Regions from separate parts of the Homo sapiens genome. Here all the other regions are linked to region 3. Evidence: fine-mapped expression QTL. A gene starts in region 3. Each other region holds a variant in brackets. All regions are shown on one strand. Distances are from middle to middle.

Region 1 (5,227 bases), 39 kb before region 3:
GGGGAGGCAAGAAGGAAAGGAAAGTGTCATCCCAGGCAAGAGTACACCAATAGCAGGAAAGACAACAATGCATGGAGCAGAGGGTTCCTGTTGTGAAAAAAAAATGAGGCATGCAACATCACTAATCACCAGGGAAATGCAAATTAAAACCACAATGAGATACCATCTTACTCCCGCAAGAATGGCCATAATTAAATACTTAAAAAACAGTAGATATTGGTGTGGATGCAGTGAAAAGGGAACACTTTTACACTGCTGATGGGAATGTAAATTAGTACAACCACTATAGAAAACAGTGTGGAGATTCCTTAAAGAACTAAAAGTAGGCCGGGTGTGGTGGCTCACACCTGTAATCCCAGCATTTTGGGAGGCCGAGGCATGCGGATCACCTGGGGTCAAGAGTTCAAGACCAGCCTGCCCAACATGGCAAAATCCCGTTTCTACTAAAAATACAAAAAATTAGCCGAGCGTGGTGGCAGGCACCTGTAATCCCAGCTACTCAGGAGGGTGAGGCAGGAGAATTGCTTGAACCTGGGAGGCAGAGGTTACAGTGAGTCAAGATCACGCCGCTGCACTTCAGTCTGGGTGACAAGAGTGAAACTCCATCTCAAAAAAAAAAGAGAACTAAAAGTAGAACTACCATTCAATCCAGCAATCCCACTACTGGGTATCTACCCAAAGGAAAGGAAGTCATTATATGGAAAAGACACATGCACGTGCATGTTTATAGTAGCACAATTCACAACTGCAAAGATATGGAACCAACAGAAGTGCCCATCCACCAATGAGTGGATAAAGAAAATGTGGTGTATATACACACCATGGAATACTACTTGGCCATAGAAAGGGATGAAGTAATGTCTTTTGCAGCAACTTGGATGGAGCTGGAGGCCGTTATTCTAAGTGAAGTAACTCAGGAATGGAAAACCAAATATGGTATGCTCTCACTTATAAGTGTGAGCTAAGCTATGAGAACTCAAAGGTGTAAGAGTGATGTAATGGACTTTGGGCACTCTGGAGGGAGGCTGTGAGGAGGCTGAGGATAAAAGACTACATATTGAGTACAGTGTACACTGCTCAGGTGATGGGTGCCCTAAAATCTCAGAAATCACCACTAAAGAACTTATCCATGTAACCAAAAACCACCGGTTCTACAAAAACTATTGAAATAAAAAAAAAACATTAAAACTTTTTTTTTTTTTTGAGATGGAGTTTCGCTCTTGTTGCCCAGGCTGGAGTGCAATGGCATGACCTTGGCTCACTGCAACCTCTGCCTCCCAGGTTCAAGCAACTCTCCTGCCTCAGCCTCCCGAGTAGCTGGGATTACAGAGGCTCACCACCATGCCCGGCTAATTTGTTGTATTTTTAGTAGAGATGGGGGGGTTTCTCCATGTTGGCCAGGCTGGTCTCGAACTCCTGACCTCAGGTGATCCACCAGCCTGGACTTCCCAAAGTGCTGGGATTACAGGCATGAGCCACCGCACCTGGCCTAAAACTATTTTTTTTTAATGAAGTATAGATGGGCAGACAAGATGGCACCAGCACACAGAAGGCCATGAACATACAAGACAGAGTTCACACAGCTTTGAAAGATCTCAGACAGGTAAATCACTATGGCTTGCACCATCTACGAAATGAGAAAGTTCTCAGCTTTCTGAGAAAACTTTAAGTTCCCTTATTTTTTGAAGAAGAGATGTTCTGGTAGTTGGGTTTTACAGAAGTGGTCACGGATTGCCTGACCTCCCTAGACCACATCTGCAAACTAGCTGGCCAGGACAGAAGGTCAGTGGTCCTGGGAAACTTTGTTTATGCTGAATTAAGAGGATAACTGCAACCTAGGGCTCTGCAGCTCTAAATAACTGAGCTAACTCAGTGGCTCCCTCCAACCACACACAAACAGAGCTAGTGTTTTATGAAGGAAAATGGCCAATTACCAACAGACAGGTGAGCATACCGACTAGTCAAAAGGGAGAAAAGGACACTGGTTGGGGGCAACCAGGAAGAGACAACTAAAGGGCTGGTAGAAGGCTGCAGCCTTTTGTGTGTGTGTGTGTGTGTGACTGAGTTTCGCTCTTGTTGCCCAGACTGGAGTGCAATGGCGCAATCTCGGCTCACCGCAACCTCCACCT[T/C]CCGAGTTAAAGCAATTCTTCTGCCTCAGCCTCCTGAGTAGCTGGGATTACAGGCATGCGCCACCACACCCAGCTAATTTTGTATTTTTAGTAGAGACAGGGTTTCTCCATGTTGGTCAGGCTGGTCTCAAACTCCCAACCTCAGGTGATCCGCCCAACTTGGCCTCCCAAAATGCTGGGATTACAGGCGTGAGCCACCACGCCTGGCCGACAAAAGGCTGCAGCCTTTTGAAGGAGACTCAGCTCATCTTCTACCGATCCCCAGTGGACAAGCAGAACTGTTTTCAGTTGCGATAGCCAAATTCTGAAGCTGCTAGGTTCTCCATTATTCATGAGTAGCTCCGCTCCCTCCAGCCTTGGGGCTGCTTTCTGTTGGCAAAGGCCTGTGTACTTCTGCAAACCTTAAAATATGAGAGCATCTGATGTTCCAGGGATCTAAAATACTGCAAATTCAGGTAACAAAACTGCTTTCCAAAGGCTCTACTACAGGGATCTTCAGTAGCTTTCCAGTCCTTCAAAATCTGTCTCCTCAGAGCTATACAAAGCCTTGGCCTAAGCTCAGCTTCCTAACTCAGTCTTTCTTCGGATAGGAAGAGGGATTTACGGATTTTGGTAAAGCGCTTTTTGTCCGTAGAAATCAAAATTAAGAGATGGGGACTGAATCACCAGAAGATATTGTCCATCCCTATTGTTAATTGTGTTATTAAGATTGAATAGCAAAGATTGACTAGCATTAAATAGAAGATAAAATAACCTATTTCTGAGTGGGTTCTTCATTTCTGAGTGACGTTAAGAAGATACATCTACCTGGAAAAACACATTTGAAGGAAAGGGAGGGCTCAGGCCAGGCACTATCCCCTATACTACCTCATTCAGTCCTTGCAAAACAAACAAACTAACAAACTTCTGTGAGTCTCCATTTTACATATAAGGAAAACAGCCTCAAAGGATTTAAACACACTTTGCAATATTGAAGAGGAAGAGGCAGCCAGGATTTGAACCAGGACTATTTGATCTTGAAGCCCATTCCCTACACAATTTCCCTTCATGTTCCTGGGTGTAATGGACAAACCACCTCTAGCAGAAGGGCTGAGAGAGAAGCCGGTCTCTTTCCCAGTCCCCTGTAGGGCTGCTTCGGCTTTAGGCGAAATTCGTGTTTGACAACTGTGGACTTCCACCCTCAACCTTGGCTCCATGCCTGTGGATAAGAAGGTTTGTAGGGAAGAAGACTTGGAGCAGAGATGTGGGCTTCCTCTTCCTCCCCCTCAGTCACAACTGCCGAACCCAGAATGGAAGCCAATCTCTGAATGAATCAAATTTGAATTTGGGCACACCTACACTTTCACGGTCCAAGTGCCTGCTGAGGATCATGTGGCTAACCTGTCCAGCCCATCCTCCTGCTCTTACCCTAATTATTTTCTTAGACCCTGAGCAACAGATGTAAAATCACCATCCACCCACCTAACTCTGTATCCTGAAGGCCATCTTCCAATGCACACAATATTTGAGGAAGTGGAAAAGGGTCCCTTATTCCAGGAGAGAAGTTACTTAATAGCCCAGAAATGAAACCACTTCCTCTCCATGAACACTCCAGATATAATAAAGTCCTCTTCCCCCTCTACTTGTCTCACCAATATGTGTCCCTGGTATGTCTGGGACAGGATACTGCCTTCAATACCCATATGGAAAACCCTGACATAACTCCTCATCAAGAGCTGGCAGATAGGAAGGAAGAATTTAATGATGCTTATCCATGTCTAAACTAGAACATAACCTGTGTGTTATGAGAGGATCCTAATGTTTGGAGAGTTGGGGGAAATCATTAAAAATGTAGCCCCACCAGCCGCAGTGGTTCATACCTGTAATCCTAGCACTTTGGGAGGCCGAGGCAGGTGGATTGCCTGAGCTTGGGAGTTCAAGACCAGCCTGGGAAGCATGGTGAAACCCCGTCTCTACTAAAAATACAAAAAATTAGCCGGGCATGGCAGTGTGTGCCTGTAATCCCTGTAATCGCCTGTAATACTTGGGAGGCTGAGACAAGAGAATCACTTGAACCTGGGAGGCAGAGGTTGCAGTGAGCCGTAATAGCACCATTGCACTCCAGCCTGGGTGACAGAGCGAGACTCCGTCTCAAAAAAGGAAAAAAAAAATGTAGCCCCATTTAAGACTGGATCAGAAATCAGAAAAACAGAAAAGACCTCCTCTTTATCTGGCCCTGCATGGCTAAATATGAAGAAAGGGTTGCAGAGAATAAGAAAGAGTCTGTAGCAGTCAAGGAAAGGAGACCAGAGCTGAACCCAGGCTGGTCCGCAGAGGCTGGAAGTTGTTCAGAACCAAAGGATATTCTTTAGTTTCTTCTTTTCCTTCCTCTTCCCTTTCCCTTCCTTTCCTCTTTCTTATTTTGAGACAGGATCTTAGCCTGTTGCCCAGGCTGGAGTGGAGTGCAGTGGCGCAATCATATCTCACTGCAGCTTCTAACTCCTGGGCTTGAGTGATCTTCCTACCTTAGCCTCCTGAGTAGCTGGGACCAAAGGCATGCACCTCCACACCTAGCTAATCAATTTTATTTATTTTATTTTATTTTATTTTACTTTATTTTATTGAGATGAGGGTCTCACCATGTTGCCCAGACTGGTCTTGAACTCCTGGCCTCAAGTGATCCTCCCCTTCAGCCTCCCAAAGTGCTGGGATTACAAGCATGAGACACTGCACCCAACCCCAAAGGATTTTTTTTTCAATAGGTTTTTGGGGAACAGGTGGTGTTTGGTTACATGAGTAAGTTCTTCAGTGGTGATTTCTGAGATATTGATGCACCCATCACCTGAGCAGTGTACACTGTACCCAGTGTGTAGTCTTTTATCCCTTACCTCCCCACCCTTTCTGAGTCCTCAGAGTTTATTGTATCATTCTTATGCCTTTGCATCCTCATAGCTTAGCTCCCACTTATAGGTGAGAACATACGATGTTTGATTTTCCATTCGTGAGTTACTTGACTTAGAATAATGTTCTCCAGTTCCATCCAGATTGCTGCAAATGGCATTATTTCATTCCTTTTTATGGCTGAGTAGTATTCCATGGTATATATATATACCATATTT
Region 2 (5,227 bases), 33 kb before region 3:
AGTTCTTTAAGGAATCTCCACACTGTTTTCCATCATGGTTGTACTAGTTGACATTCCCACCAACCTTGTAAAAGTGTTCCCTTTTCACCACATCCATGCCAACATCTAAAATTTAAAATTAAAAAAAATTTTTTTTTATTATGACTGTTCTTGCAGGAGTGAGGTGGTATGGCATAGTGGTTTTGATTTGCATTTCCTGATAATTAGTGATGTTGAGCATTTTTTCGTATGTTTCTTGGCCATTTGTATATCTTCTTTTGAGAATTGTCTATTCATGTCCTTAGCCCACTAATTTATGGGTTTGTTTGTTTTATTCTTGCTGATTTATTTGAGTTCCTTGTAGATTCTGGATATTATAATAGTCCTTTGTTGGATATACAGATTGCAAAGATTTTCTCCCACTCTGTGGGTTGTCTGTTTACTCTGCTGATTATTTCTTTTGCTGTGCAAAAGCTTTTTAGTTTAATTAAATCCCATCTATTTATCTTTGTTTTTGTTGCATTTGCTTTTGGGTTCTTGGTCATGAAGTCTTTGCCTAACCCAATGTCTAGAAGGGTTTTTCTAATGTTATCTCCTAGAATTTTTATGGAGCCAGGTCTTAGATTTAAGTCTTTGATCTATCTGAAGTTGATTTTTGTATAGGAGAGAGATGAGGATCCAGCTTCATTCTTCTACATGTGGCTTGCCATTTATCCCGGCACCATTTGTTGAATAGGGTGTCCTTTCCCCACTTCATATTTTTGTTTGCTTTATCACACATCAGTTGACTTGTAAGTATTTGGCTATATTTCTGGGTTCTCTATTCTGTTCCATTGGTCTATATGCCTATTTTTATACCAGTACCATGCTGTTTTGATGACTGGCTTTATAGTATAGTTTGAAGTTGGGGAATGTAATGCCTCCAGATTTGCTCTTTTTGCTTAATCTTGCTTTGGCTATGCAAGCTGTTTTTTGGTTCCATTTGAATTTTGGGATAGTTTTTTCTATTTCTGTGAAGAATGGTGGAGGTATTTTGATGGGAGTTGCATTGAATTTGTAGATTGCTTTTGGCAGTGGTATTGTTTGACTCTGTGTCCCATCCAAATCTCATCTTGAATTGTACTCCCATAATTCCCACATGTTGTATGAGGGACCCAGTGAAAGACGATTTGAATCGTGGGGGCAGTTTCCCTCATACTCTTCTCATGGTAGTGAATAAGTTTCATGAGATCTGATGGTTTTATCAGGGGTTTCTGCTCTTGCATCTTCCTCATTTTCTCTTGCTGCCCCCATGTAAGAAGTGCCTTTTGCCTCCCATCATGATTCAGAGGCCTCCCCAGCCATGTGGAACTGTAGGTCCAATTTTTCTTCCCAGTCTCGGGTATGTCTTTATCAGCAGTGTGAAAACGAACTAATGGCCGGGCACGGTGGCTCACGCCTGTAATCCCAGTACTTTGGGAGGCCAAGGAGAGTGGATCACAAGGTCAGGAGATCAAGTCCAACCCGGCTTACGTGGTGAAAGCCCGTCTCTACTAAAAATACAAAAAATTAGCCAGGCATGGTGGCGCACACCTGTAGTCCCACCTACTCGGGAGGCTGAGGCAGGAGAATGACATGAACCCAGGAGGCGGAGTTTGCAGTGAGCCGAGATCACGCTACTGCACTCCAGCCTGGGTGACAGAGCAAGACTCCGTCTCAAAAAAAAAAAAAAAAAAGAAAACCAACTAATACAGTAAACTGGTACCCATTGAGTGGGGCACTGCTGAAAAGATACCTGAAAATGCGGAAGGTACTTTGGAACTGGGTAACAGGCAGAGGTGGCAACAGTTTGGAGGGCTCAGAAGAAGACAGGAAAATGTGGGTAAGTTTGGGACTTCCTAGAGACTTGCTGAATGGCTTTGAGCAAAAGCCTGATGACAATATAGACAATAAGGTCCAGGCTGAGGCGGTCTCAGATGGAGATGAGGAACTTGTTGGGAACCGGAGCAAAGGTGACTCTTGTTATGTTTTAGCAAACAGACTGGTGGCATTTTGCCCCTGCCCTAGAGATTTGTGGAACTTTGAACTGAAGAGAGGTGATTTAGGGTATCTGGCAGAAGAAATTTCTAAGCAGCAAAGCATTCAAGAGGTGACTTGGGTGCTGCTAAAGGCATTCAGTTTTATAAGGGAAGCAGAGCATAAAAGTTCAGAAAATTTGCAGCCTGATAATGTGATAGAAAAGAAAAACCCATTTTCTGAGAAGAAATTTAAGCTGGCTGCAGAAATTTGCATAAGTAACAAGTTGCTGAGTGTTAATCCCTAAGACAATGGGGAAAATGTCTCCAGGGCATGTCAGAGGTCTTCACAGCAGCCCCTCCCATCACAGGCCAGAAGGCCTAGGAGAAAATGGTTTCATGGGCCAGGCCCAGTGTCCCCGCGCTGTGTGCAGCCTAGGGACTTGGTGCCCTGCATCCCAGCCACTCCAGCCATGGCTGAAAGGGGCCACCATAGAGCTCAGGCCATGACTTCAGAGGGTGCAAGTCCCAAGCTTTGGCAGCTTCCATGTGGTGTTGAGCCTGCGAGTGCGCAGAAGTCAAGAACTGGGGTTTGGGAACCTCTGCCTAGATTTTAGAAGATGTGTGGAAATGCCTGGATGCCCAGGCAAAAGTTTGCTACAGGGGCGGGGCCCTCATGGAGAACCTCTGCTAGGGCAGTGCAGAAGGGAAATGTGAGATCAGAGCCCCCATACAGAGTCCCTACTGGGGCACTGCCTAGTGGAGCTGTGAGAAGAGGGCTACCATCCTCCAGACCCCAGAATGGTAGATCCACCAACAGCTTGCACCGTTCACCTGGAAAAGCTGCAGACACTCACTGCCAGCCCATGAAAACAGCCAGGAAGGAGGCTGTACCCTGCAAAGCCACAGGGCAGAGCTGCCGAAGACCATGGGAACCCACTTCTTGCATCAGTGTGACCTGGATGTGAGACCTGGAGTCAAAGGAGATCATTTTTGAAGCTCTAAATTTTGACTGCCTTGCTGGATTTCAGACTTGCATGGGCCCTGTAACCACTTTGTTTTGGCCAATTTCTCCCATTTGGAATGGCTGTATTTACCCAATACCTTTTACCCCCATTGTATGTTGGAAGTAACCAGCTTGCTTTTGATTTCACAGGCTCATAGGTGGAAGGGACTTGCCTTATTTCAGATGAGACTTTGGACTGTAGACTTTGGGTTAATGCTGAAATGAGTTAAGACTTTTGGGGGCTGTTGGGAAGGCATG[A/G]TTTGTTTTGAAATGTGAGGACATGAGATTTGGAAGGGCCAGAGGTGGAATGATATGGTTTGGTTCTGTGTACCCACCCAAATATCATCTTAAAGTATTATTATTATTATTATTTTGAGATGGAGTCTCGCTCTGTTGCCCAGTGTGGAGTGCAGTGGTGCAATCTCAGCTCACTGCAAGCTCTGCCTTCCGGGTTCATGCCATTCTCCTGCCTCACCCTCCCGAGTAGCTGGGACTACAGGCGCCCGCCACCATGCCCGGCTAATTTTTTGTATTTTTTTTAGTAGAGATGGGGTTTCACCATAGTCTCGATCTCCTGACCTTGTGATCTGCCTGCCTTGGCCTCCCAAAGTGCTGGGATTACAGGCGAGAGCCACCGCACCCAGCCCATCTTAAATTATACTCCCATAATTCCCACATATTGTGGGAGGGGCCTAGTGGGAGATAATTTGAATCATTGAGGTGGTTTCCCCCATACTGTTCTCATGGTAGTGAATAAGTCTCATGAGATTTGATGGTTTTATCAGGGGTTTCTACTTTTGCATCTTCCTCATTTTCTCTTGCCACCGCCGTATAAGAAGTGCCTTTCACTTCCCGCCATGATTCTGAGACCTCTGCAGCCATGTGGAACTGTAAGTCCAATTAAACCTCTTTTTCTTCCCAGTCTCGGGTATGTCTTTATCAGGAGCATGAAAACAAACTAAATACAGGCAGTATGGTCATTTTCACAATATTGATTCTACCCATGCGTGAGCATGGGATGTGTTTCCATTTGTGCTGTCTATGATTCCTTTCAGCAGTATTTTGTAGTTTTCATTGTAGAGGTCTTTCACCTCCTTGGTTAAGTATATTCCTAAGTATTTTAATTTTTTTTGCAGCTATTATAAAAGAGATTAAGTTATTGATTTGATTCTCAGCTTGGTTGCTATTGGTGTACAGCAAAGCTACTGATTTGTATACATTAATTATGTATCCTGAAACTTTGCTGAATTCATTTACCAGTTCTAGGAGCTTTTTGGATGAGTCTTTAGGGTTTTCAAGGTTTATGATTATGTCATCAGCAAACAGAGACAGTTTGACTTCCTCATTACCAATTTGGATGCCCCCCGCCAAAGGATTTTTAAGACTAACCTTATCAAATCTTACAATAGCAACTAAAAGTATAGGAACCGCACATTTCAGACCAAGAATTAAATCAGTGGCTGTCCACTGTGGCAACCCATGAGTATCAGGAAAGACAAATGCCTAAACTTCACCCAGAAATTTCAAATTAGGAGGCATGTGGTGAGGCCCCGCAAGGAGCCACCAGCAGGAATGAAGAACCACTGAGTTAAATCCCAAAACTGTATTCATACCCTACTTCCAACCCATTCACCCCAAACCTTTCCCAGGACCAAAACCAGCCTCTAGTGTGTTAGCACGGTTTGGCTTTCCTCCAGGAACTTCAGTTTTTCCAAAAGTTTCTAACTGTAAATTCCTCACCAGGACTTTACTTGCCCCCTCAACCGAGGCATAAAAATAGGACGATTTCCACAAACAACACTTATTTAGAAATAATGTGCCAGAGGAATGATTTGGGTTGGTTTTTATCTCTGATTCTTCCCAGTAACTCATCCACTAAGAACCCTGCCCACAGGAGGGTCTGATCCAACGGGGGGTTTGAGGCCACTCAGCTCAGCCTGGTTCCCAGGGCCAGTGTCCCACTCCAGAGGCCAAGTCCATGCTCCCCTCCCCTCAGCAGGCCTGTTCCTCCAGAGCTGTCCAGTCTCTCTGCCAGGCTCCAAATTCTCCATCTTCAGTGTATTGACCAAACAATGAGACAGGAGGACAGCTGGGAGAGCGGGAGTCTGAAATCACTGGTAGAGTGGCCCAGGACACACACAGGAGAGAGTCTCCACCGCTGCTGAGATGAAGGGACTCTCCATTCTTCTCAAAAGGCTTGCTGTGTTTTTGGCATTCCCCCACCTGACTTTTTTTCAAGTGAGTTGTT
Region 3 (5,227 bases):
AGGAGGTTACCTTTAGGTAAAGATTCAAAAGCCAGAAATATTGGCCATTTGTCCTGGCTAAAATCTGGTAATAAAAGATTTTTATAGGATTTTTATTTTGAGAACTCCATAGTCAGAAATCAACTTAATTAAAGACGATATTTGGGCTGTATGTATACAGATATTGTTTTAAAAGCCCCTGCTGGCCAGGCACAGTGGCTTATGCCTATAATCCTAGCACTTTGAGAGGCCAAGGTGGACAGATCGCTTGAGCCCAGGAGTTTGAGACCAGCCTGAGCAACTTGGTGAAACACCATCTGAACAAAAAAAAAATACAAAAATTAGCTGGATGTAGTGGCAGGCACCTGTAGTCCTAGCTACTCAGGAGGCTGAAGTGGGAGGATCACTTGAGCCCAGGAGGCTGAGGCTGCAGCGAGTTGTGATCGCACCACTGCATTCCAACCTGGCGACAGAGCGAGACTCCATCTAAACAAACAAAAAGCCCCTGCTTTCCCTCTAAGAACTTCTCAGTCAATGGAATTTTGTCTTGATTTTCCATTTCTGTCTGTCTGTGTATTTATATGTGTTGTATGTATAGTATTTATATAAAAGAGCTCTAATTAATTGGCTTAAAGAAACTAAAATCAAACATTTTATCAGAAAAAATTGAAACTTTAATCTCTTTTAGGTCACGTGACTCTAATGATTTTTAAACATAAAGACAGTGTAAATAACATAAAAAATAAAGACAGTGTAAGTAAAGAATGTGTTTTGGTGGGAGGTTATAAGAAGGCGTGTGAATATGGTTTCTGTTAAAGAGAACGTAATTTTGTCTAGCTCAGAGGGTTTTAACTATTGGCCTCACCTAAAAGAGTAATGGGACAGCTGGGCATGGTGGCTCACGCCTGTCATCCCAGAACTTTGGGAGGCTGAGGTGGGGAGATCACTTGAGGTTAGGAGTTCCAGACCAGCCTGGCCAACATGGCAAAACCCCGTCTCTACTAAAAATACAAAAATTAATCAGGTGTGGTGGTGAGCGCCTGTAATCCCAGCTACTTGGGAGGCTGAGGCAGGAGAATCACTTGAACTCGGGAGGCGGAGGTTGCAGAGAGTCGAGATTGTGCCACTGCATGCCAGCCTAGGTGACAGAGTGAGACTCTGTCTCAAAAAAAAAAAAAAAAAAAAAGAGTAATGTGACAAAACTGATGGTTTAAGCAAGTTGAAAAGGGTTTGTGAAGGGTTAATCTCATGAAAAGTTCTGTGGGTATAAGCAGGTTGGCTAAGATTTAAAGGGGATTACTTAGTTTTTCCATAGGTCGAACACTGAAATAAAAGCACACTGATGTAGGGCCAGAATCCGGGCCCATGTGTCTGAATAATGGTTTTCTAGAGAATTTATTTGTTTAACAGAAAATTGTAAAGAATTATGAGAGGTTTGTGGACGTTTTACCTTATGGTCAAACTATGATTGTATAGATTTGTTTATAAGGTTTTATTAAGAATTGGATCTAACATTAATAATATACTAATGCAAAGGTGAAATTTTGCTTTCTCTCATAAACAAGATTTTTGCATAATATTTTAAAATAATGAGATTTTTGTTTACCTTTTAATAAACAACAGAAAAAGGAGGAGAGAGGAAATAGATTCGGTTGGCATCATGCTGTCTTTATTGCGACCTGCTTGGAAAGTTGACTCTCCCCTCTATCAGCAAGTAAAGATTTTTGCCTTTTAGAAATTTTGGAGTTATCATTTTGGCTACCTAAATGACTTGTAGTGACTCTATACTAATCTTCTCTGAGCAACTCTCCTCCATATCCTGTTGGGTAATGAGAACAAGTGGCACCCCCTCCCTCCAAAAAATCCATACCCCTTTATATTACAGAAAAGAAATCTTCAGAAAAGAGACATGCTACAATGAGACTACCATACAAGATGTGAAAGTTACCCCCCAAATTACAATATCATGAGACAAAATAAGGGAGAGCTGCTGTCTCTCAGTGTTTGTCCCTAGTAAGGACAACTAACCACTGAGCAAACGGACAACTGCACAGCCTTCTTTTACTCACAGAGTGTTGTCCACCTGCAGAGCCAAGTCCTCTCAATCTATCTGCACACTGCTGTGCACTTCTAGGCTCTCAGATGTTTTTAGGTCTACAAGTCCATATAACCACTCTAAGCCATGCGTCTTAAAATATGCCCTCATTTTCCATTGTTAAGCCATTGAATACAGACTGGTAGGTCACGTGGCTTCTGTAACACAGTCTAGGTCACATCGGTTAATGCTCTACGCGAATGGGACCCTGGAGGTCCTTACTCCTGCTCTCTTCTCCAGAGTAGGTTATACCTAAACCATCCTGCATCAGCCTTTCCCAAGGTCAGGGCTGTGCTGAGGGTGTAACAAGCATGGACAGTAGCCTAGCTTTCTTGGGAGATTTAAGTCTCGGGCTTCTAAAGGTTAAATATTGGTTTGTCTATAATGGGGAGAAGAAAAACAGTGGTATAACTATGTAAAATGATGGATATATTAATCTGCTTCACCATAGTAAACTTTTTACTATCTACATGCATCCCACAACATCATGTTGTATACCTTAAATACACACAATAAAATTTGTTTAAAAATAAAATTAAAAACTGTCTTCTAAAAAGAAAAACAGTGAAGAAAGAGCTCTGCTGTGAGCTCAAGAACAGCCAGTCACAGCTCCACCTAAACCCACGGGTGACTTAAAAGCTGAAGCCTTGTCATAATCATTGTCACGTACTCTTATTATGATGAAACTTTGCTCCTCTTTTTGCTGAGGAGATTCACCTAAGTTACTCTACACGACAGTAACTGAAACAGCACCCATTAGACTACTTTATGACATCCCCCTGCAGAGATCAAGAGTTCTGCAATCGCAGCTTCACAATCCTGAGAGACTACCAATTCAACCAGCCTTCAGGACTGGCACACTTCTGTGTGAGAAAAGTTCAAAAAATGGCTTAAGAAATTCAAAGCAACTGCTTACCCAAGATGAAGAGCACCCAGGGGAGGCAATGCACTGAAATCTCCCCACAGCTGCAGTCCCCAAGCTCAACTGAAAGACTGCTGCGAGCACTCTAGGTTAGGCTCAGAGCAAACCAAACACGTGCCTTCTGAAGTGGTTGCAGAGATGCAAACAGGAACCTCTAAATCAAGGTTCTCATTTCAGTCATCTGGCCCATTACCCAATTGTTATGTATACTTTCATTCTAAAAAGAGGTGACAAATTCAACCTACTGAGGTGAACCTCACACTCAGACCTCTTCAGGTGCCATCTCCCCTTTTAGATGACAAGCCCTCTGAGGGTAGGAGCTTGAATGGCACCAGGCAAATAGGTGCTGAGAAAGAAATCCATTTCATGCAAACAAAATACAATAAACGTAATATTAACACAAAACCTTCTGTGTTAAAGATACAGCAACCTCTTTTATTTTTCCTCTCAAAACAGAGGTGCAACCTCGCCAGGCAATCACCCAATCCCTGCTTCCAAAGATACGCCTGCCCAGTCCTCCAACTCACCATGTAGACATGAAAGTTTCCTCTGGCCATGTGATATCAGCATTTCCAGAATACAGGCAGCCATTGATTCCCATAGAGAACCTCTTGGGTGACTTGGACATCCTAGATTAGAACTCAAGGTTTCTTCACTTCAAGATACCTCTCAGTCTTAGTCACCACTTCAAAATAGGTGTTCTCAATGTACGCACCTTCAACCTCGGCTAGATTGGCTTGACCTAGGCATGGGCAGACTCATGGAACTTGTCCTGTATCATCTGAAAAGCTGTTGAACGTTTGCTCCCAAGCACTACGCTGCATGGTCCTTGAGAAGTGATGTGCTAGAGAGCCAGCAATCTCCACAGCATAAATATTCCCATCATAACCTATTTCAAGCTACCAACAGTTTAACAACTGGCTTGCAAAATTCCTAAAAAACTTAATACAGGTTGAGTATCCCTTATCCAATATGCTTGGGACCAGAAATGTTTCAGATTTCATATTTTTTTCAGATTTTAGAATATTTGCCGAATACATACAAGTTGAACGTCCCTAGTCTGAAAATCCAAAATGCTCCAATAAGCATTTCTTTGGAGCATCATGTTGGCACTCAAAGTTACAGATTTTGGAGTTGAAATAGCAACCACTCTTTTGTATTTTCAGATTAGGGGTACTCAGCCTGTAATCAGCTCTTGCTATGTAAGCTGGTTCCAGCACACCACGGAACCTCTGCAGGTTCTTGCGGGGGTACAGCTCCGACATGACTGGTTGCACGATGCTGAAAACCACTGTTAAATCAAGTTTAGCCTAAAGCTGCCTCCTTACATATTTTAAGTTTGGCCTAAAGGTTTCTCTGTACATCATGAACTATAACGTAAATGGAATAGTATACGGACTCTAGTCTACTCTTGTGCCAGTCACTGAGTTTGGCCAATCGAAGATGGCCAATGATTCAAACTATTCAAATAAGGCAAACACCGAGCTGTAACCAATCCGGCTATTTCTGTACCTCACTTCTGTTTCCTGTACATGACTTTCCTTTTGCTGTCCATAAATCTTCCACCACGTGGCTGCGCTGGAGTCTCTGAGTCCACTCTGGCTCAGGAGACTGCCTGATTCATGAATCATTCTGTGCTCAATTAAACTCTTTTAAATTTAATTCAGCTTTTAATACCACAAACCCCCATCTTTTTCACATGACAATTCCCACCTTTTATGTAGATATGCACACACCAAAAGGTAGCCAAAGGGTACAAAGAAGTTTATTGACTATGATGCAGTAAAGATACCAAGAGTTACAATATTTGTGCATATGGCCCAACAGTGCCTACCCTCCTACAAAACAAAAACAAAAACAAAAAAAGGCAATGAGGTGCAGCAGTTAACAGCCCAACACTGGAGTCAAAGGAATGGAGCTGCCTCTTCTGGCAGCAAAGTTTCAAGTTGTGCAATTAAATAATAGTCTTGGTCCACTCCTTGTGGGTCTTCTTACAGTTTCCCTTTAGAACCATAACTGAGTGACTTAGTAGAACATTCATATTCAGGATGTGGCCTCCAGAAGTGTCGTTTTGTTTTGTTTTGAACAAAGACGTGCTACCTTCTCTCTTGAAGCACCAGTGCTGGGTTCAGGAGCTACAGAGGACTAAGATGTTCCCCAAGTAGCCTGAAGTAACAGGTCACATGGAAAACACAAAGCAATTGGTGAGTCCACATTTTGTAATAGAATTA

Evidence for each region. PIP is the estimated chance that this variant, and not a neighbour inherited with it, causes the effect.
Region 1: its variant is the best candidate, but not a certain one, in a credible set for the expression of JAML in whole blood (INTERVAL, PIP 0.87).
Region 2: its variant is the best candidate, but not a certain one, in a credible set for the expression of JAML in whole blood (INTERVAL, PIP 0.68).

The regions. Positions count from the first base shown.
Region 1 is chr11:118,183,248-118,188,474 of GRCh38, forward strand. No RefSeq gene overlaps it. Among named protein-coding and RNA genes, the nearest start is that of SCN2B, 9.2 kb to the left of the region's middle. The variant T/C (reference allele first, on the strand shown) is at 2,130.
Region 2 is chr11:118,189,158-118,194,384 of GRCh38, forward strand. It overlaps JAML (junction adhesion molecule like), which reads right to left. Exons shown (of 10, transcript NM_001098526.2): 10 at 4,568-5,227. The coding sequence ends at 5,168. Among named protein-coding and RNA genes, the nearest start is that of SCN2B, 15 kb to the left of the region's middle. RefSeq lists an enhancer at 5,107-5,227. The variant A/G (reference allele first, on the strand shown) is at 3,238.
Region 3 is chr11:118,221,951-118,227,177 of GRCh38, forward strand. It overlaps JAML (junction adhesion molecule like), which reads right to left and starts at 3,061. Exons shown (of 10, transcript NM_001098526.2): 1 at 2,991-3,061. MPZL3 (myelin protein zero like 3) reads right to left here. Exons shown (of 6, transcript NM_198275.3): 6 at 4,740-5,227.